2 separate regions of the Homo sapiens genome follow, and region 1 is linked to region 2. A link means that fine-mapping ties the variant in region 2 to the expression of a gene that starts in the linked region. Tissue or cell type: whole blood. Region 2 holds a variant in brackets; the other region holds the start of a gene. All regions are shown on one strand. Distances are from middle to middle.

What was found. PIP is the estimated chance that this variant, and not a neighbour inherited with it, causes the effect.
Region 1: KAT2B starts here. The variant in region 2 is fine-mapped to the expression of KAT2B in whole blood (TOPMed, PIP 0.98).

Annotation. Positions count from the first base shown.
Region 1 is chr3:20,039,281-20,042,029 of GRCh38, reverse strand. KAT2B (lysine acetyltransferase 2B) reads right to left here and starts at 1,584. Exons shown (of 18, transcript NM_003884.5): 1 at 1,250-1,584. The coding sequence starts at 1,552. RefSeq lists enhancers at 83-272, 989-1,959 and silencers at 1,123-1,182, 1,383-1,512, 1,683-2,322.
Region 2 is chr3:20,166,363-20,168,862 of GRCh38, reverse strand. It overlaps a transcript of SGO1 not described here. Among named protein-coding and RNA genes, the nearest start is that of SGO1-AS1, 6.7 kb to the left of the region's middle. The variant T/C (reference allele first, on the strand shown) is at 1,068.

The DNA of each region.
Region 1 (2,749 bases), 130 kb after region 2:
ACTCAACAAATATTTATTGAACCAGTGTAGGATACAGAGGTGCTTAACATAAACCTGAGCATATGGTGTGGAAAAAGAGCAAGCATAGACATTCCATTGTGACTGAGAAGCTCCTGCAAGTACCAAGAAGAGTATAACCTAGATGTTCTAGTAGAATAAATTATAGTTATGTCAAAATTCAGAAGTGGTCACTGCAGCTTGGTTGTGACAATCGGGAATCTGGAATCTGGGAACTTGACCCTCTTTACAGCAGGCAGGAAGAATACAGGGAGGTGTGAGTGTGTGTGAGTGTGTCTCTTCCCTGCCTCAGCCACAGGCCGCAGGAGCTGACAAGGCCAAGTCCCCGCCCCCCTCAGCTGTCACCCTGTCAAAACAAAGCCGCTGCTGACAGCGCAGGGCCAGCCTGCCCCGCGGCCTCGGGCAATCCTCCCACCTCGGGAACACAGCCTCCACATCTGGATCTGCAGCTGGAGGTGACAGGGTGCCTAAACTGGCATGGAGAGTGGGTAGCAAGAAATGGGTGTCCTCAAACTGAGCAGTAGCGCCCGCCGCGCTGGGCTGTCACTTTGCCAAATCCTGTTTACACCTCGAGCAGCTGGGACAGCGTTTTAACTAAACAAGTAATAATACAATAATGACAGGGCTGTCACCGCGCGCGGCAGTGCCTCCGCCCCCAGCCGAGGGCGCCAGGCACCACAAGACCCTCGCCTCGGACTCTGCCCACCTTCCCACCCCGCGCTTTCCTCCCCTTCGCTTTCCCAAAGCGCCAGGAGTCCGGGAGTCTTCTCCACCCCCACTCCTTGCACCCAGTTCCTCCCAGTGGGACACAGGAAGGGATCGATTGCAGAAGGGACCACTCAGTCCCCCAAAAGATTTTTCCTTGCCCCTGGGTCACCCGCCACATGGAGAGCACCGCTCCACTCCCGGGAAAGTGACTCCAGCGAGCTCCTACAGAGCAACAAAACCCCAAGGTAGCCCGGGAGCTCGGATGCCGAAGCTACTCCTTTCAAGCGGAAGGAATGAAGGGCTCTCCGTCTTAGTGATCCCCCTTCTTCAAACCCAGCAGGACTCTTATCCAAGAAGAAGCTAATTGGGCGCGGGCGACAAGAGCACTTCCGCGGTGCAGCGGCCCCAGGCGGGAGGCGAGAGGCAGGAGGCGGGAGGCGGAGGTGGAAGCGGGAGGGGGAGGGGGGTCCCGCGGGCTGGGCCCCTAGCACCCATCCGCGGTCCGAGAGCGGCGAGCGCGTACCTTGCAGGCGGAGTACACTCCGAGTTTCTCCAGTTTCTTGGCCCGCGGAGCGGAGCGTAGTTGCGCTTTCTTCACGGCGATTCGGGCCGAGCCACCGCCTCCCGGTCCTTCGGCCGTGCCCGCTGCAGCCACTGCCGTCGCCGGACCGCAGGCGCCCGAGCCCCCGGCGGCAGCGGCGCAGGGGGAGCCCTGCGGGGGCGCGGGCGGAAGCGCCGCAGGCTGCGGGGGCAGCGCCCCGGGCCCGGCCCCTGCCCCGGCTCCTGCCCCGCAGCCGCCCGGCCCGGCCCCGCCAGCCTCGGACATGCCGCCCCGGAGCACGGCAGGAGGCGCCGAGTGTCAGGCGCCGCCGCCGCCGCCAGGGTCTCCCTCTCGGGCTCTGGTAGTCGGGAGAGCGAGACCCTCCCCCCACGCCCTCCCGCCCCCTTCGCCCACCCCCCTCCCCGCCCCCGCCCTCCCCCTAGCGCGCCGCTCGCCCGGCTCGCTCTGGCCGGGCCCCGCGCGCTGATGGTGGTGGCGGCGGCGGCAGCGGCGGCAGCTGCTCCCCCAGGAGGGAGGGGACTAGCGGCTCCGCTGCCGCTGCCGCCGCCGCCACAGCACACGCCCTCCCTTGGTTCTCCTGCCCGGGACTCTGCTCCGCGCCCTGGCTGCGGACATGTTCCTCGGGACTGCGGACTAGGTGTGCGTGCCGGCGGCTGCCAGCCTCACGGTGTCTGCCAGCGCTGGGAGGCCCCCCACGGCCTCTTTTCCGCTGCCCGCGGGGTTTGCACCCCCCACCCCAGTGCTTCGACACCTACCGCTCGCCCGCCAGGGGGCGAGGCCAATCCCTGGGTGTGGGTGAGGGTGGGGACGAGGGTGGGGGTAGGGGCCTGGAGCCCAGGCACCTGCTGGCCACCTCCCCCCTCCGCGGCCCCCCATCCGACCCCCGCACGCCTGCACCAGTGGGAGGGGGCAGCCTCTCAATCATTTGTCCTTTCACTCTCTTCCACCCTGTCTCTGACAGAGAGACAACTTCCTCCACCCTAGCGGGAGCCAGAGGAAAAAAAATATATTTTTGAAAAGTACCCGTCCATGCTAATCTTTTTCTTTGTTGCTAATTCACCAAAATAAAGACGTGATGTTCTCCCTTTCTCTTTTTAAATACTTTCTGTCAAACTATTTTTTAATATAATTAACACTTTCTTCCCATAGCAATTTCTGGGTCAAATCTGCCGGAGGAGGGGAAAAAAACTTACTATTCTCTGTAATTTTTGTTTGAAAGTGCTGGTTGCTAAAAGAAAGATTGTCTAAAAAGCATTGTCAAAAACTATGCAGTGGAAAAAGTTTGAATACAAAAAGTTTGTTAACAGGATTCGTTTCTGGGTGGTGGTTCTATAACGTTACGTAGTTTTCAAAATTGTGCCACCGCGTGCGTATTAACCAGGAAAAAGATATAAGCATAATTCAAAAGAATAAATATCGATTTTGGCCTCAAACTTTAAAAAGAAAAAAAAAACCCTCAAC
Region 2 (2,500 bases):
TCAAGGAGATCGAGACCATCCTGGCTAATACGGTGAAACCCCGTCTCTACTAAAAATAGAAAAAATTAGCCAGGCGCCTGTAGTCCCAGCTACTTGGGAGGCTGAGGCAGGAGAACGGCGTGAACCCGGGAGGCGGAGCTTGCAGTGAGCCGAGATGGTGCCACTGCACTCCAGCCTGGGTGACAGAGCGAGACTCCATCTCAAAAAAAAAAAAAAAACAGTTTCTCAGTCCATGTAACCACCTTTCAAATGATCAGTAGCCATATGTGGCTAGTGGTTACCATATTAGACAATTGAGGAAATATTGAACATTTCCATCATCACAGAAAGTACAGTTGGACTATGGGCCAAATCTAGCACACCACCTGCTTCTGGATGGTCTTCAACCTAAGAATAGTTTTTACGTTTTTAAATAGTTGAAAAAAAAAAAAAAAAGCAAACATTTGAAATCAATTTTAATGATAGAAGCACTAACTTTGAACTCCAGTAAAGTACCTACATTATATTCTTGAGTTTGCCTCTTGGCCTACAATCCTAAAATATTTACTTTCTGGTCTTTACCAAAAAAGTTTGCCAACTCCTGCTCTAGACCATTGAGTACTTTACTTTTGCCTTAAAGATCATTCTGGTCTGACACTCTGATCTAGCTTTGATCCTTACCTTCCCTTCATCCCCAAAGTCAATCATTATCCTAAAATCAGTGTTGAATTGTTTGTATTTTTAGTGTTCCTATAGTCTTGCTGTCATATTTGTTCATAGGCTTTTAAGTATTGTTTTATATCTTAACATTTTATAGGAATATTGTACACATCATTTTACAACTGACTTTTAACTCAATATTGTTTTTGAGATTTATCCGTGTTGGCAGATGTAGATTATTTTCATCATTGTACAGTTTATTATATAAATCAGACTTATTCATTTCTTCTTTTGAGACACAATTCATTTCCACTTTATTATTTACAAATTAGTGCTGCAGTGAATATTCTGCATCTTTGTACACTTAAAGTGCTTAACTTTCTATAAAGTTAATACCTAGAAGTGGAGTTGCTTGGTTGTAGAGTATA[T/C]TGAACTTTAACTTTACTATTAGTTAGGAAATTGCTTCCTACAGTGGTTCCACCAATTCTGTTATAAGGAGTATATCACTCTCCTAATAGCAGTTTCTAAGTTCCAGTAGCACCACACACTGTCGATCACTTAGTTTTATTAGACATTAAAATTAGCCAAGCCAGGAAGTATGAAATTATTTCTTTGTTTTAATTACTATGAACTTGTATCTGATTGATTTATTTATGAGAATTCAAGTGTTTATTATTCTCATTTCTTCCTTTATGAATTATTATATCTTTTGCCTGCTTTTCTAATAGAATGTAAAACTATGGATTTTTTATATAGTCTACACACTATTCCTTTTTTTCTGTTGACAAGTATTCTAAGTATCTTTCCTCAATCTCTGCCCTTTTTTATACCTTGCTTATAATTCCCTTTGATATTTAGGAGTTTTAAATATTAGTATCGTCTACCACCTTCTTCCTTAAGATTTTGTCTATAATTTGTACATTTTTGTTTTTCACTTTAAGGTCTTTAAACCATATGGCATTTATTTTGAGGACTAGGGATCTAATTTTATTTTTTCCCATGAGGATAACCAGTTGTCCCAGCACAATTCATTGACTAATGTCTTCTTTCCCCACTGCTGAATATTCCTAGCTTTGTCATAGAATGGGCTTCTTTGCATTGCTTTATTTGTTTAGCTTTATGCTGGGTATATTGTATAGTCACAATTTTTTTGTGTGTTGGTAGGGGTGGTAAATATACATAGAATTTATCATTTGATCTTTTTAAATTTTATTTTTGTTTTTTTATTCTCACTCTGTCACCCAGGCTGCAGTGCAGTGGCCAATCATAACTCACTGTAGCCTCAAACTCCTGGGTTCAAAGGATCCCCTTTACCTAGGACTACAAGCTTGCACCACTGCACCTGGCTAATTTTTTTTTTTTTTTTTTTTTTTTTTTTTTTGGTAGAGATGGGGACTGGCTATGTTTCCTAGGCCAGTCTTAAACTCCTGGCCTCAAGCAATCGTCCAATCTTACCTCCCAAAGTGCTAGGATTACAGGCATGAGCCACCACACCTGACCATTTTGATCATTTTATTTGTAAAGTTCAGTAGCATTAAGTACATTCACATGATTGTGCAACCATCACTACCCTTTTCCAGAACTACTTCTTCTTCCCAAACTAAAACTCTATACCCATTGAACAATCACTCTCTCTTCTCCCCTCTCTCCCAACCTCTGGTAACCACTACTTTTACTTTCTATCTCTATGAATTTGACTGTTCCAGGTACCTCACAGAAATGGAATCATAGGATATTTGTCCTTTGTGTCTGGCTTAGTTAGCATAATAATCGCAAGGTTCATCCATGTTATAGCATGTATCAAAATTTTATTCCTTTTTAAGGTTGAGTAACATCTCATTGTATGTATACATATTTTCTT